3 linked regions of the Homo sapiens genome follow. The protein of the gene in region 1 purifies or fractionates together with the protein of each later gene. This does not show direct contact. Each region holds a gene or a part of one and is shown in the gene's direction. Other genes may lie near its edges.

What was found.
Region 2: the proteins of SERPINA10 (region 1) and MIA3 purify together in Homo sapiens (co-immunoprecipitation; 3 studies listed by BioGRID and IntAct, with this or other methods). This does not show direct contact.
Region 3: the proteins of SERPINA10 (region 1) and PLAT purify together in Homo sapiens (affinity purification with mass spectrometry; 2 studies listed by BioGRID and IntAct, with this or other methods). This does not show direct contact.

What each region holds. Positions count from the first base shown.
Region 1 is NC_000014.9:94,279,960-94,283,268, reverse strand, and holds the end of SERPINA10 (protein Z-dependent protease inhibitor precursor), read left to right. Parts: 3' UTR 1-2,809; downstream 2,810-3,309. UniProt on the Homo sapiens protein: Inhibits activity of the coagulation protease factor Xa in the presence of PROZ, calcium and phospholipids. Also inhibits factor XIa in the absence of cofactors.
Region 2 is NC_000001.11:222,625,141-222,637,608, forward strand, and holds part of MIA3 (transport and Golgi organization protein 1 homolog isoform 1 precursor), read left to right. Parts: intron 1-2,434; coding exon 2,435-5,249; intron 5,250-7,024; coding exon 7,025-7,186; intron 7,187-7,963; coding exon 7,964-8,109; intron 8,110-12,468.
Region 3 is NC_000008.11:42,187,824-42,200,291, reverse strand, and holds part of PLAT (tissue-type plasminogen activator isoform 1 preproprotein), read left to right. Parts: intron 1-7,080; 5' UTR 7,081-7,106; coding exon 7,107-7,178; intron 7,179-8,877; coding exon 8,878-8,920; intron 8,921-11,220; coding exon 11,221-11,358; intron 11,359-12,275; coding exon 12,276-12,386; intron 12,387-12,468. UniProt on the Homo sapiens protein: Converts the abundant, but inactive, zymogen plasminogen to plasmin by hydrolyzing a single Arg-Val bond in plasminogen.

The sequences.
Region 1 (3,309 bases):
ACCTTAGTTACTTGGCTAAAGACTAGCTGGGTAGAATATCTTTTCTCTGTTGCTCACATATTTTCATTTTTAAAAAGTTGCAGATGAGAACACTATGTCAAGATAAAGCCTTTGGGAGGAACACATGTAAACATTCTCCTTGAGTCATGTGCTTCTCTCTCTTTCCTTCTCTCTGGTGCAAAATAAGTGTTTTATTTTAATCTATTACGGAGTCATTTCTTGCTGACTGACATCAGAAGAAAATAGCTCTAACCAGTCCTGATCACAGCATCTGCTTCCATGGTGCATCAAATCGCTTGGCAGAGGCATTGGCTGAATCACAGATCATCTAGTTCAATACCTTCATTTTACAAAGGAAAGAAAGAGGGACCCAGAAACAGGTCCATATTCTTACTTTCATGGGCCCTAGGCACGTTTAACCTTGTAGACTCCTCCTTCCTTCATGAAGATATATATGTTCTATGGCTGCATTGGTAGAAAGATGAATATATTCGTCTTTCAAAGTTGCATATCTAGCTTCAAAGTTATATGTCTAGCATATGGCAATAAGCAAAACACCTTCATGGGCCCTTACAGTACTGTCAGCCTTGGGCACTGTGTCTTCTGCATCTAGTGGATAAGTCATACCTTATATACCAGTGGGAACAAAATACTTGTCCAAGGTCTTCCAGTGTGGCAATGGCAGAGTCAGAAGCCTACCTTTCCTGAGTCTAGTCTCCAAGCCCTTTTTACTCTTCCTTCCATCTAAAACATCTGATGGGGACCAGGTAAACAGCATGCACTACAGCTACCCATGGGGGTTAAACAGAATATAAGCATGAACTTTGTCCCAGGGTGAAAAGGAAAATCGTAAATATCCCTGATCTTCCTTAGGCAGTTATTTTCTGTCACAGAAACAGAAAAGACTATATTCAGAGAATCCTGAATAGAGCTGATTTACAGTGTGAACTATGTTAACTAAATGCCTAATTGGATTTCTGTCTGTCTGCTATCTAATGTTTAAAAAAACCTAAAATTCATTTATTGATTAGTTGTTTAATATAATTCAGAGTAATGTGAATAGGTAATAATATTAATATGCAGTCTAAATACTGACTTTTCATCATTCCATAACCTGGACTGATGAAAAGTCAGTATTTAGACTGCATATTAATAAAATAAAATTCATTCCTGTATTCATTCCAAGAGTACTAATTGACACTTATGAAGGGACAGGCAATTCTAGGCCCTAGAGGGCCAAAGACAGAGGACTAACTCTATCTGACATTCTTAAGTCACCTTGTTTGTGTTCAATTAGTCAGATTTGTTTGTGGAAAAATAGTAGAAAGAGGAATAAAGTAGCATCCAGTCCAATTTCCCACTTTTAAGAGATGAAATCTGGAAAAATAAGTCTGTGAGAGCACAATACTCACTGAAATCAATATGGCCAAACCCAGTAATAAAAAGGTACATTATTATTGAAGGATTCATATAGCATGCAGATAAAAAACTCCTGCCTTCTTCCCACCACATACACTGCAAAGCAACAACAGCATAATAATTGTATTTAATATACTACTCTTTAAGGTAGAAAATGGACCTATTCTATATTTTAAATATACTTTTTAATGTTCCCTCACATTTGCTTTAAGAAGTTCCTAAGACACTCAGTTTCAGATTTCCCAAGTACACAGGCATGACAGAAAAACGCAGACCAATAAAAAATGTAACTTACCTTACACAAATACATACACACAAATTCAGGGTTTCCAACCGAGCGGGGGAAATCTTAACATTGTAGAAGTCTTCACTATATATGTGTCGAGTTTTTGTTTTTGTTTTTGTTTTTGTTTTGAGACAGAGTCTTGCTCTGTCACCCAGGCTGGAGTGCAGTGGTGCGATCTCAGCTCACTGCAACCTCCACCTCCCGGGTTCGTGCCATTCTCCTGCCTCAGCCTCCCGAGTAGCTGGGACTACAGGCACCTGCCACCACGACCGGCTAATTTTTTGTATTTTAAGTAGAGATGGGGTTTCACTGTGTTAGTCAGGATGGTCTTGATCTCCTGACCTTGTGATCTGCCCGCCTCGGCCTCCCAAAGTGCTGGGATTACAGGCATGAGCCACCACGCCCGGCCAAGTGTCGAGTCTTAAAAATTGTTCCTACACAGACACACTCAACCACACGTTCTCACATATATATGCTGTAACAACTGAGAACAGGTTACTGACTTAATCTAATTCATTCTATCTTCATTGTAAAACTTCCACTCCAGCTGAAGAGCCTGTTTCATTTCAATTCAAAGATTTCTCATATATCCACTAATTGTATGGCAAAACTGACTCATCTCCAGACTAAGATATTCAAGCTCAGGAAGTCAAATAATAGAAATGATTTTTTAAATGTGTAAGAGGTTATAAAGAAAAACTTTATGTGCTCCTTATTTAACCTCTATTAAGTAAAATCCTTTATAGACCTATCTCCATTTCTGCAGTAAAAGTGAGCTCTACAGTTAGCTTGTAAGGCTAACTAGTGAAATTCCTGGACTTGTTCTTAAAAATGCAAGTTTTAGTAATTAACAAAATGATGATGAAGATGTCCCTTTTCCCTACAACTACAGATGGAGGGAGATTTTTCTTTGCCATACAACTAGCTTAAAGGATTAATTTGATAAGTTGTTAAACTGAGAACTTTCACAAAAGTATCCATCTTGTTTTTGATATAAATGGAGATACATGTAGTTATTCATAACTGTCAGTAATTTGCTGTTTATCCTGTTTCTATATATCTGTCCTTGAGAGTATAATTTTAATAAATATTTCAAAGATTTTAGGAAATGTCATGTTCTGTTAAAAAACTTCCAAAAGTAATTTTGATGAACAGTTTTGATAACTTAGTACTAACTAGGACTAAGACTGCAATTGACTGCTCTACATTCCTGAACTTTATAAGCAGTAGTTGTTTCTCTCTGTCAAATCAGTGTCCCCTTTTCCCATTTGCATCATGGGAAAGTGAAACCTTATAATTCTGCTAAATTTATTATAACAAATACATTGAAATTCTCCATTTTATTAAATTAATAGAATGTTATGAATCAAAGCACCAAAAAAACTGATGCAATTTTGATGTCTCGTTCTGTACCACATTCTCCAGATCTTAATATATTCAGTTCCACATTATTGGTGCTAGTAGGAGACATAATGAAAACAGTTAAATGAAATCCACAGCGAGTATACTGATTAACCAGTACTGTCAAATTTCTCATACCTATTGAATTTTAACTACTGACAAAATGAGCAGTAACAATTCCATTTACCTGATTGTCCTTTGGC
Region 2 (12,468 bases), on another chromosome or scaffold:
CTGGGACTATAGGCGCCCACCACCACGCCTGGCTAATTTTTTGTATTTTTAGTAGAGATGGGGTTTCATTGTGTTAGGATGGTCTCGATCTCCTGACCTCATGATCCGCCCGCCTCAGCCTCCCAAAGTGCTGGGATTACATGCGTGAGCCACTGCGCCCGGCCAAGGCCGTGTACTCTTATACAAGGCTTTTCTTTGCTGCTTTATATGTGAAAAATTAAGAGTTCAGTAGTTTTATATTTACTTATTAATGTTAGAAGGCAAAAAATTTCATTTCACAAGCAAAAGGAGAAATTTGAAAACTACTTATTGGATAGCTGTTAGACATTTTAAGGATATAGAAATCAGGTTAAATTAATTAAGCTCTAATTTTATACTGAGCCAGAAATGCAAACTTACAAAGGTTTTCTTATTATTGACTCTGTAGTGATTTAAGCGATTATAGTTATAGATTTGGAAAAGGGAACCAGAGAGTTTCAGGTGAGGTCCAGTCTCATATCTGTAAGGCGCTAACTACACATTCTGTAGAGCATTTATCTATAGTGCACAATGGCTTCGTGACTAGAAGGATTTTGTGTTCTAGAATCTGCATTCCATCTGATTATTATTTTTTTGAGACAGAGTCTCTCTCTGCCGCCCAGGCTGGAGTGCAGTGGTGCGATACCAGCTCACTGCAGCCTCCGCCTCCCAGGTTCAAGCAATTCTCCTGCCTCAGCCTCTGGAGTAGCTGGGATTACAGGCGCCTGCCACCACACCCAGCCAATTTTTTTGTGTTTTTAGTAGGAACGAGGTTTCACCGTGTTGGCCAGGCTGGTCTCAAACTCCTGACCTCAAGTGATCCATCTGCCTTGGCCTTCCAAAGTGCTAGGATTACAGGCTGCCTTTCATATATATATATAAAAAACACCATGCCCAGCCCCCCATCTGATTGTTTTGTGAGTTTTAGAATTTATAGTAATTGATGTCTGCTTTCATTCAAAAGTCTTTGAGTAGCTCTTTGGAGTTGCTGCAGAGCGTGCAAGCTGCTGGGCTAGGGCAGTTCTTAGAAGAGATTGGCAGAGTGAAGTCACAGAGCTATTGCTATGCTTAAAATTTCTCGACGCTCTCAGGGGTTATATAGTCAATCGTATTGCCTGTTTGGCTTCACTCCTGATGAAGAGACTGCCCGGGATTTGAGTGTGAGACAGCAATTCATTGGTCACAGAGACCTGACCTGTATACTAATTGTAGTTCCCACTGCATGATTCCCTTAATATTAAAAAAATTGGCTCAGAAGTGTGCATGATGGAAAGAGGGAAGTCATTCATCTCCAGTACACAGGACAGTTCTCACCAGAAGATTGTGAATGTTTAGTTAGGGGAAGAAAGTTATCTTTGTTGGTTTTTTAACTTTTCCATCATTTTATGGCTCCTTGTATGTCAATTTGCTTACTGGTGGAGGAAGGGAAAAATACAGATTTACTTGACAGTCCTGAAAGCAGATCTTAGTGACTGGCTAGAATCCTTATTTGGAGTTAGGTACCTACCTTACTGAATCTTGTTTTCAAGTTGTTCTTGTGGCAGTATGAAAATGGGGAGCCTCCTTTACACCATTCTTTGTTCTCTTACATTTTTATATCTCATGCACCTGTATCTCAGTAAGTTCCTTCTGAAGCTGATTTCTTTCCCAGTCCAAGGAAAATATGAGCCCCAAATCCATGTAGACTGAGAGCCTGACAGCCAGGTGATTCTGCCTGTTTCTGACTGGGTGAGCAGAGAAGTATGACATAGAGGGCACAATGTAGAGAAGCTGATGGTCTTTCAGCTCCTCCTGGATGGGTTATAAGGTGAATTCCCAGAACATCAGGCATAGATGATGGGAGTTGGGGAACCCAATAAATGACACCTTACTTTTCCCCACCTGTGCTCAAAACAAAATTGAGAGACCCAGGAGTTGGGCAAATAGGAGATCAAAATGACCCCATTATTTACTGATAAAGCTGTTTGGAGTATGCAGAAATAATGGGCTTTCTAACATTGCGGTCTAAACTAAGATGGACTTATCCAGTCACAGACAGAGCTATCCAATAGGGGTCTCCCCAGGTGGGACTGTCCCTGTAAAACGGACAGCATGGAGGAACAGAATATGTGTTTCCTCTCCAGCAGGTCCCAAACAGAAAACAGGATTGGGACTGAGCAAACTCACCAGCCACATGAATCATTCTTCCCCTGGGGAAGAGAGAATGAAGGGAAGCCAGGAGTATTACTCAGATGGGAAAGTGGGTTCCAGCCTCCTATCCACCCACTGCCCAAGAACAGTCAGTGCCCAGTGTTGACGCAAAAGCTCCTCTAGAGCCAAACGTGAATTCGAGATTATCTCAATCATTAACGTGGATAAGACTTTGCTCTGGTGACACTTGGCTATTGACAGACTAATGTTTTTCTTTTTCTTACAGGAGACGGATTTTGTTTGTTTTGATGGAGGAAGAGATGATTTTCATAATTATAATGTAGAAGAACTTTTAGGGTTTTTGGAACTGTACAATTCTGCAGCTACAGATTCTGAGAAAGCTGTAGAAAAAACTTTACAGGATATGGAAAAAAACCCTGAATTATCTAAGGAAAGGGAACCTGAACCTGAACCAGTAGAAGCCAACTCAGAGGAAAGTGATAGTGTATTCTCAGAAAACACTGAGGATCTTCAGGAACAGTTTACAACTCAGAAGCACCACTCCCATGCAAACAGCCAAGCAAATCATGCTCAGGGAGAGCAGGCTTCATTTGAATCTTTTGAAGAAATGCTGCAAGATAAACTAAAAGTGCCAGAAAGTGAAAACAACAAAACCAGCAATAGTTCTCAGGTCTCAAATGAACAGGATAAGATTGATGCCTATAAACTTTTGAAAAAAGAAATGACTCTAGACTTGAAAACCAAATTTGGCTCAACAGCTGATGCACTTGTATCTGATGATGAGACAACCAGACTCGTTACTTCATTAGAAGATGATTTTGATGAGGAATTGGATACTGAGTATTATGCAGTTGGAAAGGAAGATGAGGAGAACCAAGAAGACTTTGATGAGTTGCCATTACTTACCTTTACAGATGGGGAAGATATGAAAACTCCAGCAAAGTCTGGCGTTGAGAAATATCCAACAGATAAAGAGCAGAATTCAAATGAAGAGGACAAGGTTCAGCTAACTGTGCCCCCTGGCATCAAAAATGATGATAAAAATATACTAACAACCTGGGGGGACACTATCTTCTCTATTGTCACAGGAGGTGAAGAAACAAGAGATACGATGGATTTAGAGAGCTCTAGTTCAGAGGAAGAAAAAGAAGATGATGATGATGCATTAGTCCCAGATAGCAAACAGGGGAAACCACAGTCAGCAACAGATTATAGTGACCCTGACAATGTAGATGATGGTCTTTTTATTGTAGACATTCCTAAAACAAATAATGACAAAGAAGTAAACGCAGAACATCACATTAAAGGAAAAGGGAGGGGAGTTCAGGAATCCAAGAGGGGCCTGGTACAAGATAAGACAGAATTAGAGGATGAAAATCAAGAAGGCATGACTGTGCACAGTTCTGTTCACAGCAATAACCTCAACTCTATGCCAGCTGCTGAAAAGGGTAAAGACACATTAAAATCAGCTTATGATGATACAGAAAATGACCTAAAAGGAGCAGCTATTCATATCTCAAAAGGAATGCTCCACGAAGAAAAGCCTGGAGAGCAGATTTTGGAAGGTGGCTCAGAGAGTGAATCTGCACAGAAAGCTGCAGGGAATCAAATGAATGACAGAAAGATTCAACAGGAATCCCTGGGTAGTGCACCACTCATGGGAGATGACCACCCTAACGCATCCAGAGACAGTGTGGAGGGAGACGCTTTGGTAAATGGGGCCAAACTGCACACGCTTTCAGTGGAGCATCAACGTGAGGAATTGAAAGAGGAATTAGTTCTTAAAACTCAAAACCAACCTAGATTCTCCTCTCCAGATGAGATTGATTTGCCCAGAGAACTGGAAGACGAGGTTCCCATTCTGGGAAGAAATCTTCCCTGGCAACAAGAAAGAGATGTGGCTGCCACAGCCAGTAAGCAAATGAGTGAGAAGATAAGGCTCTCTGAGGGAGAAGCCAAAGAGGACTCCTTGGATGAAGAGTTTTTTCATCACAAGGCAATGCAGGGCACAGAGGTAGGACAGACAGACCAAACTGACAGCACAGGAGGACCAGCTTTCCTTTCTAAAGTAGAAGAGGATGATTATCCCTCTGAAGAACTACTAGAGGATGAAAACGCTATAAATGCAAAACGGTCTAAAGAAAAAAACCCTGGGAATCAGGGCAGGCAGTTTGATGTTAATCTGCAAGTCCCTGACAGAGCAGTTTTAGGGACCATTCATCCAGATCCAGAAATTGAAGAAAGCAAGCAAGAAACTAGTATGATTTTGGATAGCGAAAAAACAAGTGAGACTGCTGCCAAAGGGGTCAACACAGGAGGCAGGGAACCAAATACAATGGTGGAAAAAGAACGCCCTCTGGCAGATAAGAAAGCACAGAGACCATTTGAACGAAGTGACTTTTCTGACAGCATAAAAATTCAGACTCCAGAATTAGGTGAAGTGTTTCAGAATAAAGATTCTGATTATCTGAAGAACGACAACCCTGAGGAACATCTGAAGACCTCAGGGCTTGCAGGGGAGCCTGAGGGAGAACTCTCAAAAGAGGACCATGAGAACACAGAGAAGTACATGGGCACAGAAAGCCAGGGGTCTGCTGCTGCAGAACCTGAAGATGACTCGTTCCACTGGACTCCACATACAAGTGTAGAGCCAGGGCATAGTGACAAGAGGGAGGACTTACTTATCATAAGCAGCTTCTTTAAAGAACAACAGTCTTTGCAGCGGTTCCAGAAGTACTTTAATGTCCATGAGCTGGAAGCCTTGCTACAAGAAATGTCATCAAAACTGAAGTCAGCGCAGCAGGAGAGCCTGCCCTATAATATGGAAAAAGTCCTAGATAAGGTCTTCCGTGCTTCTGAGTCACAAATTCTGAGCATAGCAGAAAAAATGCTTGATACTCGTGTGGCTGAAAATAGAGATCTGGGAATGAACGAAAATAACATATTTGAAGAGGCTGCAGTGCTTGATGACATTCAAGACCTCATCTATTTTGTCAGGTACAAGCACTCCACAGCAGAGGAGACAGCCACACTGGTGATGGCACCACCTCTAGAGGAAGGCTTGGGTGGAGCAATGGAAGGTGAGATGCCTATGGCCTTGTAGAACAGGGCTGGAGAAGCAGGTGGGTGGGTCGCTGAGGTGCCTCCTATCTTGTGAAGCTCTGTTCAGTTTCCAATGTGCCTAAAGGAGAGGGACAACACAGGGAGGTCCACATGTTCCTTCCTGCCATCTTTCTTTTAGGCTGGAGCATGGAGAAGAATTTCTTGCCGTTTCCCTTAGAATAGTTGAGACTGGTTAGCATTTTCAAAAGGAAACTTTGTAAAAAGCTAAAGAGAAAGATATAAACCAGAAAGTAATATACAAAATACAAATGTCATGTAAAATTATGAAAGGGTTTTATTGAACACAATTTTTCAGTCGTCAGATAACTGCTCTGTAACCATGGATTGACTGGTATAACTTTTAGATCAATGCCTTGGCTAAATTCCTACGTTCTCCCCAATTTTATCTTTTGTGGATGGCTTGTTCTTCCTGTTTCTTGGGAGCACTTACTCCAGTTAAACCCTCCTGGGCCGTAAGGTTCTTGCATGCAGATTAATCAAGATTGGGACAGGGATGCCTTCGAATGCAGTGCTTGATGCGTGGAAGCCATTCAGTTGAATTAACCCCGAGCCAATATCCTGACATAAGCATTCTGATTCCTAGTTCCTTGTTCTATTCTCTGCATCCAGGCTTTTCTCTTTCTTTTCTTTTCTTTTCTTTCCCTTTGCCCACCTGCCCTTCCTTCCTTCCTTCCTCTTTCTTTTTTTCTTTTCTTTTTTTTTTTCTTAAGACAGGCTCTCACCCTGTCACCCAGGCTGGAGTACAGTGGCATGATCATAACTCATTGCAGCCTCCAACTCCTAGGCCCAAGCGAACCTCCCATCTCAGCCTCCTAAGTGGCTAGGACTACAGGCATGCATCACTGTGCCCAAATAATTTTTATTTATTGTAGAGACAGGGTCTTGGTATGTTGCCCAGGTTGATCTTGAACTCTTGGCCTCAAGTGACCCTCCTACTTTGGCCTCCCAAAGTACTGGGATTACAGGTGTGAGCTACCGCACCTGGTATATCCAGGCTTTTCAGACAGATGTATCTGAATTGAGAGTACCAAGGGGACAGGAAGCCACAGGAAAACGTATTACTCCAGAGTGCTAATTTTTCCTAAGAAATGGGGGAGGAGAACTTTTTTGCATTTAATTAAAACATATATTTTGGATAAGAAGGCAATATTCAGATGAATTTTCAGGGTAAAATATGAGGCTACAAGGAAATTCACCTTTGCTGTGGATCACATTGGACTGTCCCCTAAGCCTCTTAGGAGAGGAGATGGCTTCACTTTGTTTGACTCTTAGAGGTACTTTGAAAGTATTCGAAAGACATCTCAGCAAGCTGCCTTGGCGTGGAATGTCCCTGTCTGTACTAGTTCTGTGAGAAAGGCATGCTAGGGTATGCAAGAGTTCATGTTACTTCTCTGCAGAATAGATGTTTCACATTTCTGCTCTTGAGTGGAATTCTCATTTGCACATTTATTTGTGTGGGTGTAGGCTGATTTGCCAAGGAAAGATGTTACTGAAGTCCCTACCATAAATGTATTTATTTATGAAATACTCCTCTGTAGATTTTATTATGTAGATTAGTCATCCTTTAAATGGAATAAAAGAAACTGAAACTCTTATTTCCCTGCCCAGTTGTGCTCCATGGGATGCCCATGCATGGAGGTCAATGTTGAGGTGCCCTGGTGTGGTCAGTGGGATTAGCCTAACAGGTAGTGTCATCAAGCTGTGCTAGCCCAGTGTATTCTTCTCACCCTAGAGATGCAACCACTGCATGAAGATAATTTCTCACGAGAGAAGACAGCAGAACTTAATGTGCAGGTTCCTGAAGAACCCACCCACTTGGACCAACGTGTGATTGGGGACACTCATGCCTCAGAAGTGTCACAGAAGCCAAATACTGAGAAAGACCTGGACCCAGGTAAAGCCTGCTAATTTTTTTCTACAAAGTGGAGAAATCATAAAGAAGGCCTTCTAGGAGATTCATTGTCAAAGGCAGGAGCTAGAGACTTGTTAAATTCAAAGGAAAAAAGGATCCCAGAGCTAATTGAGAGAAAAGCAGGCGTCAAGACAGATGGAGATCAAAAATAGGAAAGACACCAGAGACTATAACTAACCTACAAACCAATGTTTGGCTGTCACTATCTTGTGTAAATTATTTCAATCTAAAATATTATTCTTAAAAGGCCTTATGCTCTAAAACAGTAGTTTTCAACCAGCCCAGCAGCATCAGAAACTCTGGGGGTGGAACCGGCAATCTGTGTTTAACAAGCCCTCCAGGAAAGACTGACCTGATGCAAATTACAGTTGGAGAACCACTGCTCTAAAACTCACAAATTCTGTTTTTCCTCTACTTTACCCCTCTCTTTCCAAATAAAATACAATGCAATGCAGTTCTTTTTTTTGATTTGCTATCTGGACATGGTAAGTAAAACTTCTTAAAATACAGTGAAGGGGTCCAAGTATGTTTATAGCATAAGCTCATAGGAGACAGTACAGAACACTGTAGTGTGTAATAGTCCAGGATAGACCGACACAAAGAGTATTTCACCACAGTGCACAGTAAACATCCAGTGAGAGATGAGAACGTTTACTTTCCAGGCACAGTGCCTAATATTTAGTGGATACTCAATAAGTATTTTTTAAAGAGAATTCTTATTCTAAAGCACAAAATGTCTATCTTTCCTCCCAATTCCAGGGCCAGTTACAACAGAAGACACTCCTATGGATGCTATTGATGCAAACAAGCAACCAGAGACAGCCGCCGAAGAGCCGGCAAGTGTCACACCTTTGGAAAACGCAATCCTTCTAATATATTCATTCATGTTTTATTTAACTAAGTCGGTAAGTTTAACATAGTTTTTTTTTAACTAAAATGTTGATTATTACAGTTTTTAAGTTGATTTTGAGCATGAGGTGAAGAACTTAAAATGTCTTTATGAACCTGACTCCTGATCCTTTGAAGAGAGACCCTGAAATGAGCCACAGGTGTGTGGCTTTAATGGGCTCTTAGTTCAGCACATGAGGAGGCTTTGCTGCATGCTGGAGCTGGGCACAAGCACACCTGTCAAACGTGGTTCTTCCTTTCAGGGACCTTTCAGTTTAGCCAGGAGAGAAAGACAGTCACTTGAAATGTAACATGATAATGGGCAGGAAGAGAAGTATTTACCTGATGGTAGAACAATCTGTGGCATAAATTGGTTCATCGTGGAGGGAGAGTGATAGGAAAGGCCAGAAATTCGCTGAGATATGCTTTAAGCAGATTCGAAAGAGATGGGAGCTTGACTTGGAGTTGTCAAATAGAAGGGCTAGGGGAAGGATGTGGGCAGGGGGGCGGGCAGCATGCAGTCAGGCAGAAGAAATAACACATTCAGAGAAATGGAGGCATGAAGAAAAGGTTATTTGGGGAAGCCAGGGAAGCGTGGGTAGTTGGTGTTTTTTCTTTTTCTTTTTTTTTTAAATTGAGACAGGGTCTTGCTCTGTTGCCCAGGCAGGAGTGCATTGGCGTGATCTCAGCTCACTGCAACCTCTGCCTCCTGGGCTCAGGCGATCCTCCTGCTTCAGTCTCCTGAGTAGCTGGGATCACAAGTGTGCACCACCATGCCTGGCTATTTTTTGTAGAGGTGGGGTTTTGTGATGTTGCCCAGGTTGGTCTCGAACTCCTGAGCCCATGGGAGCTGCCCACCTTGGCCTCCCAAAGTGCTGGGATTACAGGCGTGAGCCACCATTCCCGGCCAGTTGGTGTTGTTAAAGTGTGGAGTTAAAATTAGCTGGGCAGGGTGGTGCACACCTGTAATCCCATCTACTTGGGAGGCTGAGGCAGGAGAATAGCTTGAGCCCGGGAGGCAGAGGTTGCAATTAGCTGAGATCGTGCCACTGCATTCCAGCCTGAGCGACAGAGCAAGACCCTGCCTCAGAAAAAATAAAAATAAAAAAGTATGGAGTTAGGAGGGAGAAGGTCTGTTGGAGGGACTCAGGGAAAGTCAGAAAGGAAATTGTACACCATAGTGAGTGGTCAGACCATTGTTGGCAGAGATCCTTGGAAGATTTTAAGCAGGAAAGGGATTGTCAGGTCTGTTTCTTAGAAAGAGTCACTTATGGCAGAATATTTATTCAGATCTTTCTAAAGGGAGCCATGCTCCAAATGAGACATTTAATGTCTAGAAGCTTATCTAGGCTTTTTAGGACTTAGCTCCCCCTTGTGGTACTCGGTGGAATTGGACTTTTTTTCTTGGTAAATTAGAGGACTAAGCAAGCTCTTGAAGTTGGAGGCCAGGTTGCCCTTAGGGCTACAGAGAAAGTATGCTTCTCACCAAAGCCATTTCCTTTAGGTTCTGTTATTTCAAGACTCGAATAGGAAAGAGCGTTCTTGTTGTTTTTCTGTTAAAATCCATGGGTTTCAAGCCAAGATGATTTTATTTCAAATCCCAAAGCTATCGATTAGAAGTTTAGGGCAAATTACTAAACTTTGAACCTCAACTTTCTCATCTGAAAAATTTAGATAATACATACTCCAATTGTTGGTAAGAATTAAATGACATGATAATGTAAAATGTCTGGTGTAGCAACTGGCATTTTGTAAGATCTCATCCCTCACCTAATTCTCATTTGGATGGTCAGAGGGCATATAAAGACATTGAATACCTGAGGGTTTCAGGAGAAAGACCACCAGGATGGAAAACAAGTAGGAAAACCAAACCATTTTTCAGTATTATTCATGTTTGTTCTGGTGATAGCCACCTGGGTGAAGGTGTGTATTATCTTTGCAGTTGGAATAATGAAGTTTTCAGGGATTAAGACAGTCTCAGAATTCAGAATTTGGTTTTCAGAGTGAAATTATCACTTGAAAAATTTAACAGCCCCAGTTGTAGAAGGAATTCTTTATTCATTGTATTTCTAGATACGCACAGAGCCCTCTTCTAGGCCTGGGTTGGGGCATATAGGAGTGGTGTAGGATACGATCTGTGATCAGGGGATAACAGGGAATGACAGACATGAATGGCAAGATATAAGGGCGCAGTGTTATAAGATGCCGACTTGAGAGGGATTGTCAAAAGAGCATTTTGATGGCTAAATATGTACCAGAAATTGTGCTAGGAATACAAGATTCCAAGAGGTATAAAGTGTAATTCTGACTTTTGAAAGTCTTCAAAAAAAGTTTACCAAATACATGTGAAAATTGGAGAAAGTGGAGAATATAGGAAATAGTTTATGCAAAGTATCAAGTAGTTCATATAGATAATTGTTTCATAGGGTTTTGGAGTAATGGGGTGCTGACTTTATTGGGAAAACTATACCAGAGGTCAGACTCGTAGATCAATAATTGATGAATAGTTAGTGGAATCTTAGGGTTGGAAGAGACCTTAGAAGCTACTAGTCCAACTTCTCAGTAGTCACAGCAATTCCCTGTACTCTAACCCTGCCATTTTGGGACCTGTGCGTCACCGGTTCCTAGTGTAAGCCGCCTACCTTGCAAGGCTATACATTCCTTTGTTGCCTATTTCATTCTTATACTGACTCCAAATTTTCCTCCAGATGATTTCCTCTATAGAATCTAGTTTTCTTTTTACATAGTAATCCTTTAAATATTTGAAGTTATACTTTAATTTATTTTAGCATTTTATCCTGGAAAATTTCAAATATACAAAAGCAGAGAATCCGTGGGACCATCACCCAATAATTCCCAAAAGTGACTGTACCATTTTATACTTCCATCAGCAGTTAATGAAACTTCCATTTGACCACACCTTCCCTAACACTTGGTATTATCAGTCTTAAATTTTAGCCATTGTAGTGGGTATGCCTTTCTGGTTTTAATTGTAATTCCTGATGATTAATGATATTGAGCACTTTTTCACTGCTTATTGGCCATAGTTTTTTGTGTGTCAGTTCACTCTGACTAGCTGGAATTTAAATGTCTTGCAGCCCTGTGACAACTCTGGGAATTGTTTAGCTTACAGTTGTTCTTTTTTCCTTTAGTTATTCTTTGCCCATCCTCAAGGAATCTTACCCTACACAGGAGCTGTTTAGAATTCAGGCTGAGGCTGAAGGAGAGACCTCCTTGCATATTTCTGGAACTCTACTTGTTCCTAGTGTCCATCTTTTTTTTTTTTTTTTTTTTTTTTGAGATAGAGTCTTGCTCTGTTGCCCAGGCTAGAGTGCTGCGGTGCCATCTTGGCTCATTGCAACCTCCACCTCCCGGGTTCAAGCGATTCTCCTGCCTTAGCCTCCCAAGTAGCTGGGATTACAGGCACCCGCCACCACACCCGGCTAATTTTTGTATTTTTCAGTAGAGACAGGGTTTCATCATCTTGGCCAGGCTGGTCTCGAACTCCTGACCTCGTGATCCACCGGCCTCGGCCTTCCAAAGTGCTGGGATTACAGGTGTGAGCCACTGTGCCCAGCCCATAGTATCCATCTTTCTGGTACCTTTTCCTGCATATTTCAGATGCCTCAGTCTCCCCGAGCTTTAATCTCTGCCTCCTCTGCAAGATTGGTGTACTCTGCTTGGGTTCCCTATCCCTGCACTGAAGTCAAGAAAGTACCGCCAGGTAGAAAGCTGGGAGGTTGTAGAGCTCACCTATTTGTTTCTTTTCTCTCAGGGGTCACAATTGTGTGCTGCCTGTTGTTCTCTATATGAAAAACAGTTTTTAAATATCTTTTGTTTAGTTTGCTTGTTGCTTTCAGTGGGAGGGTGAGTCTCATACCAGTTACTGTCTATGGAGTTCTTTCTGTTATTATTGCAGTGCATTCATTGAAGAAACAGTTTTGTTTGGCTTCTAAGGTATATGATGGTCTAGATTTTGCTGACTACATCCCCCTGGTGTATTTTAACATTTTTCTCTGGTTCTTTATATTTCCTGGGAATTGATAGTTGCATCAGTAGTCAAATTCAGATTCAATTTTGTTTGTCAAGAATACTTAATAGGAGATGTTATGTACTTCCATCAGGAGGCATTTAACATCTGGGTGTCCCTCTTTTTTTAAAATTCTCTTTATATTGTTCCTCCTTCATTTAAAGGCTGGGGTATTTCTACAAAGAGAAACTTATGATCAAGTATTCTTTACACTGAGATTTGGCTTGTATAGTTAAGGCAGGGTAAATATTTGATTCTTTTTGTTTATTTAAACAGTTTTCAAAATAACGAGTTAGACAACTCATTCGTGGCATTATCAAATGATGCCCAAAGGGTTTTGTTTTTT
Region 3 (12,468 bases), on another chromosome or scaffold:
GTTGGGATTACAGACGTGAGCCACTGCTCTCAGCCCCTTACACTTTTTTGAAGTTCAGTTCTCCCATCTGTAAAAACGAGGTAATAATATTGCCTCAAATGACTTAATGGATGTGAAAGGGTTTAGTAAACTCTGTGCCTGGAAAGGTAGAAGCTACTCAAATATCTGTTGAGTGAGTGGCATTCATCCATGTGTACATTTCTCAGGCAACAATAATGTCACTTTCACCTAAGGCCAGTAAAATGTGGGTAAAGTCATATAATGATACAATGAAAGTTTCTGATCAGTATTTCCTAATTCAAGTGTGTTGAAATGTGGAGTTGGGCTGGAGAATTGTCAAATCATTGCGTATTTAATTACCTTGTGGTGATGTTTGCTTTAGGGAGTGGAAGGAACATGAGGAACGAACGACCTTCATCACGGAAGATGACATTCATTTCGATTCACTTTAGATTTCAGGGCTTGTTTAGATGCAGACTTTGCAGTTAACATTTTATTGCACTGACTGATTTAGTTTTCACCAGGTGGTCCTTGTGTTTGCTTCAGAAGGATCTAAGTGTATTAGGACAGGGTTTCTTCTGTTTTGATTGTGGGAGGAGGCGGGATAGACTTCTGTTTTCCTAGACCCACAACCAAAATTCCCCACTCCTCCAAATAACCGGGATTACCAGGCAGAGGGTGGAGCATTGAGGAGATGACAGCTGGACATGCCTGCTGTAGCTTTTTCTGAGTTTAATTCCATATAGCTTAGACACAGGCCATATGCCTACATTTGGAAGATGTTTTGGAGAAAATTCTGCTCTGATGGGTGGGGGGCAGGGTCTGCCAGGAAAATATTCTATTCTTTTGAAGACATGGGGTCTTGCTATGTTGCCTAGGCTGGTCTTGAACTCCTCGCCTCAAGTGATGCTCCTGCCTCAGCCTCCTGAGTAGCTAGGACTACAGGTGCAAACCACCACACCCAGCTCTGAGAGGATGCTATACTCTTCACTTCATTGGAATTGGTGAAATTAGATAAGAAACAGACTCTTCCTCTCTTCTCCCCTAGTTATAAACAGTTCTGTTAAGAGAGGGAAAATAACCATTTAGCCTATAGAAAATCACCTTTTCGAAAAGTTAAGAATTACTTATGTGATGGTAGTTTTTGAAAGTGGTTTTTATTCTGAGATCATGGCCTCTGTACTATGCAGGGCCTGGAGAAGTGGGATGAGAGCTACCAGGCTCAAAGCTCCTGTCCCGAACAAAGGGTTGCTTTCGTGGGAGCACGCCACCCTTTCCAAGGCTAGTTCCTCTCCCAGCATCTCACTTCAGCTCTCGTCCTGCTCTAGAAACGTGCCTTTGCTGGTCCAAGGAATCCTGGCCGTTTCTTTTCTTAATTGTTGGCATTCATCTGGGCTATGGTGGTTGTGGCGGGGGTGGCAGTGGAGAGTGTGTTGTTTTAAATCCATGAGTCATTTTAGGGTATTGGTACTCTTGAAGACTGACTTTCTCTTGCTCAGGTTTTCAGAGAGACCTTTTGCTAAGCAACAATAACCTAAGAATCTCCTTGACCAAAGATAAATGTAGCAAACTTTGCACATGGTGCAACATTTGATAATAGTATCAATTTACGTTTGTCTTTCCCTTGCAATTTCCCTCCTCCTCTAGCTTGCTCACGTTTCTGCCTTCTTCTTGCTGGCAAGAGTACAGACTATAATTCTCCAGTTCACTAACATCTGGAGCGACTGCACTGTTTGCAATTTCATTGATTGACTACATGTGTACAGTTCCTTTATTGCAAGTCACTTTTCTGTATAATCTTTTTTGAGACGAAGTCCTGCTCTGTCGCCCAGGCTGCAGTAGCGCAATCTTGGCTCACTGCAACTTCCGCCTCCCGGGTTCAAGCGATTCTCCTGCCTCAGCCTCCTGAGTAGCTGGGATTATAGGCGCCCGCCACCATGCCCAGCTAATTTTTTTGTATTTTTAGTAGAGATGGGGTTTCACTATGTTGGCCAGGCTTGTTTTGAACTCCTGACCTCAAGAGATCTGCCAGCCTTGGCCTCCCAAAGTGCTGGGATTACAGGTGTGAGCCACTGTGCCTGGCCATATAATCTATTTTTAAAATGTTTTTATATGAAAATAAACAGAGACAGAGTCTCACTGTGTTGCCCAGGCTGATCTCGAACTCCTGGGTTCAAGTGATCCTCCCACCCTGGCCTCCCAAAGTGCTGGGGTTACAGGCGTGAACCACCTCATGTGGCCTCGCTTTCCTATATAATTTAAACAATAGAACTATAGTGCCATTTGTAAGAGTTTCCCAGTTTATACTGCATGTGACACTCCCCATGTCGTATGTTCTCACAACAGAACAGAAACCGCAGGATGTCAGCACCGGAGGCAACCTTGGAGCATCCAGCCCACTTGGTTTTGCATTGCTGGCAGGAGATTTTATGCCTCAAAATATAGATGCTTTTTGGAAGGACAGCACATTAATTATTTTTCAGTCATTTTTACCTTATGCGAACAAGCTGATTAGTTCCTTTCCTAGGAGCTGGTTTTTATGGAGGGAAGATGGGGCCGGTAGAGGCAGATAGAGGGGGATGTAATACACAGGCACTGAGACAGCACCCCACTGACTTTCCCCTGTCCCTCCTCCAGCTGGCCTCCTCCTTTCCAGGGGCTGTGCCCAATCCAGAATCAGTTACTCACTGGTGCCCATCGACCATCATTTCCCCATGTGGCCACCAAAGAAATGAACACCACCTTTCTGGTTGGCATGATCATCAATTTCTCAGCCAAAACGGCATGCATCCTTGGCTCTGGGAAACAGTACATCTCCCAGGAAAGTGAGCTTACAGCACGGTACCCCACTTCCTGGTTACCAGACTATTGTTCCCGTTTTCCCCAAGAACAGTCATCATTCACAGGTTGTTTGGCAGGGCCCAGGAACAGAGTCACTCTGGTTGCTACAGCCAACAGACCAAACACGGCTTCCAGGCAGGAAGGTCAGAGCTGCTCTGCAGGATGCACATGCAGGTTGGAAGCAGACAGGGCTGGCCGAGCACAGATATGCTGGCTGTGTCCTACACACAGGTGCCTACACACACATCCTTCAGATCCGGGCTGCACTCTATCAGCCAACCCACGGACTCTGTTTTTTCTAATTTGCACAGATTCTTTGTCAACCTGCCATGCCCTGAGACTGCTGAACTTCATCCAACAGAGAGGGTACCTTTTGCAAATCTGCAAAAATCAACTTTGTGTGCTAGGGTGGCCTGACAGGGCTAGGCCTTGGGGTCTTGGGGACCAGCATTCCACCTCTCCTCTCATACAGTGATTCTGGATTCCAGCCCAGCAAAAGTCAGCCAACCTTGGGGCCTTCCTTTCTTTCATCCTTTCTTTTTTTTCCTTTTCTATCCTTCTGTGCCTCCCTTCCTACCCCCTTCCTTCCTTCTTCTCATTTGCCTTTTTTTTTTTCAGTTCTTTGATGATCCTGAGAAGCTACTAAATATAGCAAAAGGGAGATAACACAGAACAAAATTAGAAGTCTATTTATAAAAATGAGCCTCTTCCATCCCTTCCGCCAATGTCATCTCTCACCCGGGTCTCGCCAGAGCACTCATGGACCTCCCTTTGGTGAGGCCCAAAGTCCATCCCAGCCACGCCCTGCGGTCCCGAGTCTGAGTCCATTGTTCTGGCTTTCACTCTGCTCTGCATCCCGTCACTGGCCCCAGACCTCGACGCCCACCTCTTCAGCGAAGGCGAAACAAGGACTCATTTTTCCTCCCTCTCTTCGCTCTTTCTTGTTTTCAGACTGCACTGTTTTTCTGCTGGCCGGATGACTCATTTCTTTGTCATCTCTTACCCCACTTGGCCTTTTCAGCTGCTCGAATCGCCTCTGTGTGATGCGGACAGAGCTATCGCCCTGCTGGGGTGAGATTCACTTGCATTGAATCAGCTCAAGGCGCAGGAAGGTCCAGGGAAGCCAAGGAAGAGAAGAGACAAGTCTCCAACTCTCTCAGGAGCAAAGACAAAAATATGCTCCTGCTCTCTTATCTCTTATTCAGACCGTTCAGTTGCAAAAGGGTTGAACATGATGCAGCGGGTGGTATGTGTGGACCAGCCCTAGGTCGTGCTTCTCCTCCATCTGGTCCCCCCACCCCTAGTTATCCAGAAAGGGGGATGTTCCCAGGCAATGCCAACATGTCCATACTGCACTCTTCACATTGCAGTTTCCCGGCATCTGGGATTGCATTCCTTTTGGAAGGACTTTGAGTTCTTGAAATAAAGAAGTAACTTGGTGGGCATCTGGAAAAAACACCCAAACTGTATCCCAGGCTGGGGTGCAGGAGCCTATCGAGAGGGCTGGGTGGTGTGGACAGCGTGATGAAGAAGGTCAAGTTCCTTGTACTCACTCGTTTGCTGTTTCATTCACAATTCCTGTGAGGTGGGAGCTCTCACCATCCTTGGGTCTTGCTTAAGAGTAAGGAGTGGGGCAACCTAGAGATACATGAACATCAAGGAGAAATGGGGAGGGAGTTTCACATGAGCTATTTTTACAAGATTAAGTAATGGGATAAAATTTAAAAGGGGAATTTAAGAGGAATTTTGGGCAGTTTTGAGAAACAGGAAATTTGAGGAAAGCTGAGAAAGAGAAGATCTGGAGTAAGTCTCTGTGATGAGAAGATTCCACCCCGCACTCCTGTTCTGGGTGGCCTTGGCTCCTGACTCCCTTTCTTCTGAAACTGCCTGGAGCCAGGGAGTAGCACAGCTGCTTCCTCCCGGGGAGAAAGGGACACCCAAAGAGCGCACTCCAGGGAGACCTTGGGCACTGCGGGCTCAAAGGCTGGAGATGGCACTTCTGTTCCCTCCTGATGGGACAGGTGCAGGGAGGCTGAGAGGATGCCACGCTGGCGAGCCTCCCTCTGAGCTGTGTTTTCTCATTGGAATTGCTGTACCCGGAGCCTCCTGCAGGTTTCCCTCGCCCTCTCCCTAAGCTCCTCTGCCTGACACAGGAGCCCGGGGAGAATCTGTCAGGCATGAAATGTAGCGAGGCAAGGAGGGTGATCAGCACCTCCCACGGGGGAGTTCGTTTCGAAGTAACAATCAAAGATCCAGAGCCGGACCCAGGCAGGGAGGCAAGGCCTGGAAGCCCCTGTGCCTCCAGGCCCCTAGGACGCTCGGGGGAGGGGGAGGGGGAGGGTGGGACCTGAAGTTGTTGTGACCGAAGGGAAATGAGTCAGGGAAAGAAATGCCATGCTTTAATTTTTGTGGATGAAGGAGGGAACAGGCCGCCAGACCACAAAATAACACCCGGCCGACTAACCTACTTTTAGCTGCCGAGGGCAGGATCACAGAGGAGAGGCAGATGGAAACTGGGGCTCTGGGGTCCAGGAAGATCTGAGTCTTCCGACCAAACATCATTTGCCTCCCCTCCTTCCTGCAAATATGCACATTGCCGGATCTGCTGCAGTCTATGAAAAAGGAGACAGATGTTCTGGCAGAGCGGTGGGGGGGGTGGGCGTGGAGGTTGGGTTGGGGGGCCTCTGCTTTGTGGGGAGAACCTCAGGCAGGGGAGTAGGCTCCATCCTGCGTGGAGGAACCTGAGCAGTCTAAGGCAGGCTGGCTCTATGATGTGCTGGCAATAAAATCCCAATGGCTTCCGCTGCAGAAGTCCAAGAGGACATGACTGCGGCTCCATCTAGTCAAGCCCAGGGCAGGAATTCCCTTCCAGGAAACCAAGCCAGAGCGCTGTGGTCTCTGGGCTGCCAAGATGTCTCAGAAATGGTCTAGCCCTTCAGCCCACAGAAATCTCTGGGCAAAATTATCTCCCAGCATTGACAGACGAATGGATAAACAAAATGTGTTCTATCCCACAGTGGAGTATTATTCAGCTTTAAAAAGGAAGGAAAAATGCTGGGCGCGGTGGCTCACGCCTGATCCCAGCACTTTGGGAGGCTGAGGAAGGAGGATCATTTGTGCCCAGGAGTTCGAGACTAGCCTGGACAACATAGAGAAACCTTGTCTCTACACACACACACACACACACACACACACACACACACACACACTCTCTCTCTCTCTCTCTCTCTCTCTCAGCCAGGCACAGTGGCACATGCCTGAAGTCCCAGCTCTGGGAAGCTGAGGCAGGAGGATCTCTTGAGCCTGGTGGGTCAAGGCTGCAGTGAACCATGTTCATGCCACTGCACTCCAGTCTGGATGACAGAGCGAGACCTAGTCTCAAAAAAAAAAAAAAAAAAAAGAAAGAAGAAAGAAGAAAGGAAAAAGAAAAAAAGGCAGCGGGGGCGCGGTGGCTCACGCCTGTAATCCCACCACTTTGGGAGGCCAAGGCGAGCGGATCACGAGGTCAGGAGATCGAGACCATCCTGGCTAACACGGTGAAACCCCGTCTCTACTAAAAATACAAAAATTAGCCGGGCGTGGTGGCAGGCGCCTGTAGTCCCAGCTACTCAGGAGGCTGAGACATGAGAATGGCATGAACCCGGGAGGCGGAGCTTGTAGTGAGCCGAGATCACACCACTGCACTCCAGCCTGGGCGACAGAGCGAGACTCCATCTTAAAAGAAAAAAAAAAAAAGGACATGCTACAGCATGGATGCACCTTGAAGACATTTGCAAAGTGAAACAAACCAGTCGCAAAAGAAGAAACACTGTCTCATTCCACTTCTAGGATGTATGTAGAGCAGTCAGGTTCATACAGACAGAAAGTAGCAGCGTGGCTGCTGGGGAAAAGGGGAATGGGGAGTTATTCTTTAATGGCTACAGAGTTTCAGTTAGGGGTGATGGAGAAGTTCTGGAGATGGGCGGTGGTGACGGCCGGCCGCACAGCAATATGACGTGCTTAATGCCACTGAACTGTGCACTGAACATCGTTAAGGTGGTAAATTTTGTGTTATATATATTTTGCAACAATAAAAAATATGTAGTTTCTAGAATCCTCTTCTAGATGCATGTCTGGCGTTTCTGCCGCGGGGCTGGCACTGGAGGAAGCCAGACAGGACAACATTGCGGCTTATCCTCCTCTGTTGCCATCATGGACCTCTCGCACCCCGTGATCAAGCTGTTTTTTCTCTCCTTCCAGAATTTAAGGGACGCTGTGAAGCAATCATGGATGCAATGAAGAGAGGGCTCTGCTGTGTGCTGCTGCTGTGTGGAGCAGTCTTCGTTTCGCCCAGCCAGGTTGGTGTGCAGGATCCCTGTGTCCCGCCCCTCAAGGCTGTGATGCTTCCGGAGGCTCCAGGGGTCTGTGTCCATCTGGGCCACGGAGGTTGGAATGCTGTCAGGGAGCAGAGAGGCACAGGGACGAGGGGCTGGCATTGCTGTGGAGCACACAGCACACACTCCCTTCTGTACAGCAAACTCTGTATTTGGGGGCCCAGTGTGTAGCTGGGCCCTAGGCACTTATTTTGACCTGAGTAAGCGGAATTAACATGCCACTCCCTGCCTGTGACTGCCTTTTTTTGCAGCTGTTTTTAAAGAATGTATTCAAATTAATCCATAAAGTACAGTTGTCCCTCATATCTATGGGGTATTTGTTCCAGGACCCCCAAGGATACCAAAATCCAGGGATACTCAAGTTCCTCATATAGAATGGTGTAGAGTTTGCATATCCTATGCACACCCTCCTGTATACTTTAAATCATCTCTAAATTACTTATAATACCTAGTACAATGTTAATGCTATGTAAATGGTTGTTATAAGGTATTTTTTAATTTGTGTTATTTTTATTGTTGTATTATTTATTTATATATTTTTTGGAAACAGGGTCTCACTCTGTCACCCAGGCTGGAGTGCAATGGCACAATCATAGCTCACTGCAGCACCAAACTCCTAGGCTTAAGCCTTGGCCTCCCAAAACTCTGGGGTTACAGGTGTGAGCCACAAGCCCAGCTTATATTATTATTTTTTATTTTTCTGTTTTGGTTGAATCCACAGATATGGAACCTGCAGATATACAAAGTGGACTGTATTTATAAAAGACAATGCAGGACAGGGCACAGTGACTCACACCTGTAATCTCAGCACTTTGGGAGGCCGAGGTGGGAGGATCGCTTGAGCCCAGGAGTTGGAGACCAGTCTGGGCAATATAGTGAGATGCTGTCTCTACAAAAAATTTAAAAATTAGCCGGGTGTACTAGTATGCACCTGTGGTCCCAGCTACTCAGGAGGCTGAGGCGGGAGGATCGCTTAAGTTCAGGAGGTTGGGACTTCAGTGAGATATGATTACGCCAATGCACTCCAGCCTGGGTGACAAACTGAGATCCTGTCTCAAAAAAAAAAAAAAAAAAAGAAAAAGGCAATGCAAGTGCCATGAGCCACAGCAGAGGCAAACTGCCCTCATGGTGCCTACTCTCTAGCTGAGATGGAAGCGCTACACACACTCTCTGAAAATGCCTAGCAATAAAGGGCCTCACGGAAGTCCAAACTAACCACACCTCTCCCACAGGACCCTACAGCGGGGAGAGCCAGGTGACTGCGTGGAGTAGACAGCCAGCTGCAACTCCATTGCCCAATATGGTGGCCACTTACCTTGTGCAACTGTTTAAATTTAAAATAATTAAAGTTAAAAATTGTTTCTCAGTCCCACTGGCCACATTCAAAGCACTCGGTGGCCCTGTGTGGCTTCTGTCGTGGACAGCACAGACAGAAAACATTTCCACCAAGCAGAAAGCTCTTCTGGACAGAGCCAGTCAGGAAGGAGAGGAAGAATTGGACTAGAAGGCAGGAGATGGACTTTCACTTGGGCCAGTTACCCGAGGGGGTCTCTGAGCAGAGGTATCTGGCCGGCAGGTTCACATGGGCTTCTGGGTTGGCCGCCTTTACTCTTAGTACACCTGGCATGTGCTGATCCTTCCTCCACCTCTGGTTTCTTCGCAGGAAATCCATGCCCGATTCAGAAGAGGAGCCAGATCTTACCAAGGTCGGGTGAAGCTGAGGGGTGCATGGGGTCATCAGGGAGGGAGGCAGGGCGGGGTGCAGGGTGCATCACCCACCCACCACCTGCCTTCTTCCACCCACCACCTGCCTACGGTGTGACAGTGCCATTGCAGCATGATTCTACAGAGATGCCTGTGTCGGCACCATTCTCCCATCAGCTGCGGCCACTGGGCGGGTTCTGATTCTGAGGGGAGCAGAAACAGGTGTTCCCCCCCAAGGAGCCAGGCTGTCAGGGATCACAACCTAGCGGGGGCTGGGGGGGGCGGCCACTGGCCCAAGGTCCTGGTTATACAGATCAAAAGGCAGAGCCCAGGAGAGAGCAAGTGGCTTGCCCAGGGTCACACAGCCGCCAGCAGCACGGCCAGGGCAGTCACAGCCGAGGCCAGGCCCATGCTCTGGGTCTCATCCTAGGCTGTGATCCCACCACAGTGCACCGGCAGCTTTGGTAACAACATCCCTGTGTATCCATTTCCCTCTGTTGATCCAACCGGGATGTCCCAACTGGGATGTCCCACCCAGGCAACCCCTCGACATGGTGGGGTCTCTAAGTCCACATCTAGAGTTGACTCTAGAAGGCTGAGGAATGCGAGGCCCAGCTTCAGGTCCAAAACTACCAACTTAGGCCCTCGATTTCCCTCCTTCACGACCCAGTTCCTTCGAGTCTGGAAGACTCTGCAATACCCTTTGTGAAGGTGTTAAAAAGGGTGACTCACTCCCCAGAGCGAGTCACACCTGGACTCTTAATGCCTTCGTTGTTGGATGGCATCCTGCTTCCTACCAGGTTATCCTGGCCTCAGTGACCTCAGAAGCAGCAAGGGTCTGACTTACAGTGGGCACGTGCTACTTCTTTAATTAATTGAAAGTAAAGTTGTTGTTTTTTAAGTTGGCATTCTGGCTTGAAAACAGAAAGATGGCATGAAAATATTAATGGGAGTACTTCAACTATTTTCATTATGCCAAAAATACTTGGAGAAGTAGCACATTTTCTGCAAAGTCTAAAATGTCAATTTTCTTTGGGGCCAAAAATGCATCATTTCTGTGTGGTAATACTTATGTGGATAAAAAACTCTGGTAGACAGTTATGCATATATATATTTTTTGGTGAATTACAATGAGAAAAAGTCCAGGTGCAATGGCTCACATCTGTAACTCCAGCACTTTAGGAGGCGGATCCAGGAGGATGGCTTTAGCCCAGGAGTTCAAGACCAGCATGGGCAACATAGTGAGACACCTCTGCCTCCCCCACCCCACCCCGCCTCTACAAAAAAATTTAAAAATTAGCTGGGTGTGGTGGTGTGCACCTGTAGTCCCAGCTACTTGGGAGGTTGACGCAGGAGGACTGCTTGAGCCTGGGAGGCAGAGGTTGCAGTGAGCCAAGACAGCACCATTGGACTCCAGCCTGGGTGACAGAGACCCTCGAAAAAAAAAAAGAAAAAGAAAAGAAAAGAAAAAATTAGGCTGGGCACGGTGGCTCATGCCTGTAACCCCAGCACTTTGGGAGACCGAGGTGGGTGGATCACTTGAGATCAGGAGTTCGAGACCAGCCTGTCCAATATGGTGAAACCCCGTCCCTACCAAAAATACAAAAATTAGCCGGGCATGGTATCGGGCACCTGTAATCCCAGCTACTCGGGAGGCTGAGGCAGGAGAATCACTTGAACCCAGGAGGTGGAGGTTGCAGTGAGCCGAGATTGTGCCACTTCACTCCAGCCTGGGCGACAGAGTGAGACTTTGTTTCAAAAATAATAATAATAAATAAATAATAAATAAATAAATCATATGAGAAGATACTCAATGGCACTCAGAAAAGAAATGCAAATTTATTTTATTTTATTTTGAGATGGAGTCTTGCTCTGTCGCCCAGGCTGGAGTGCAGTGGTACAATCTCGGCTCACTGCAACCCCCACTTCCTGGGTTCAAGCAATACTCCTGCCTCAGCCTCCTGAGTAGCTGGGATTACAGGCACCTGCCACCATGCCTGGCTCATTTTTGTATTTTTAGTAGAGATAGGGTTTCACCATGTTGGCCAGGCTGGTCTCGAACTCCTGAGCTCAAGTGATTCACCCACCTCGGCCACCCAAAGTGCTGGGATTACCAGCATCAGTCACCGTGTTTGGCCAGTATTCATTATCTTGTTGTCTTCCAGTTGTGTCTCTTCAATAAGGGAGTATGCAATGGAGTCTATAGAAAGCAAGTGAGGGAGTTTTCTCAGTAGGTGCAAGGGTAGTGAGGCATTTCATTTTGAGTCATACTCTGATGAGGCTGGCCTGTCTTTTCTCATAGTGATCTGCAGAGATGAAAAAACGCAGATGATATACCAGCAACATCAGTCATGGCTGCGCCCTGTGCTCAGAAGCAACCGGGTGGAATATTGCTGGTGCAACAGTGGCAGGGCACAGTGCCACTCAGTGCCTGTCAAAAGTATGTACTGAGGCTGGGAGGTGGTGCATGCCTGTGATCCCAGCACTTTAGGAGGCCAAGGTGGGAGGGTCGCTGGAGCCCGGGAGTTCAAGACCAATCTGGGCAAACATAGCAAGTCCCCTGTCTCTACAAAAAATAAAAAAATTAGCCAGACCTGGTATGTAGTCCCAACTACTTGGGAGGTTGAGGCAGAAGGATCACTTGAGCCCAGGAGTTGGAGGCTGCAGTAATCTACGATTGTGCCACTGCATTTCAACCTCAGTGACAGGGCAAGCCCTCACCTCTAAAACAAAACAAAACAACACAAACAAAAACAAAAACACAGAAAAGCCCAGTACAAATCGACTTCAAACTGAGACTTCGAGTTCAGGGGTCCAGTCATGAACCCTGTCTTTCATGGTCCCCGGAAAGTTCAAATCTTCAAAAGGAGCCTCCAGGCCTGTTCGGCCTTAGGCGGAGGTGAAGGTACAAGCAGAAAAGGGAGCAAGACCAAGTGACCTTGGGCAAATGCCCGCTTGCCTCAGTTTCCTCATCTATAAAGAGGTGGGAATAACAGTACACACTTCATGGTTTGCTGTGAGGATTAAATTAGCTAATTTTTGTAGACTGTACAACAGCGCCTGGCACATAGAGCACATTCTTAATATTTTAACTCACATCATCCTTGGAGCTGCTTTGAAAATACAGGGGACCCTTGAACAACACTTGTCTGACCTGCAGGGTCCACTTATGTATGGATTTTTTTCAACCAAAGGCAGGATGAAAACAGTATTTGTAGGATGCAGAACTGGTATACGCGTGTTCCACGCTGCAGGACTTGAGTGTGTGTGGATTGTGGTAGACAGGGCTCCTGGAACCATGGCCTGAGCACACAGAAGGAGGCTGTCATTAGGGGCTTCCTTTTTTATACTTGACAGGTTGCAGCGAGCCAAGGTGTTTCAACGGGGGCACCTGCCAGCAGGCCCTGTACTTCTCAGATTTCGTGTGCCAGTGCCCCGAAGGATTTGCTGGGAAGTGCTGTGAAATAGGTGAGTAGGTGAGAGCACGTGAAACGAGCTGAAATCCCACCTCTCCAGTCTCCCCCGCCCCCGGAAGGAAAGGCAGGGTGCG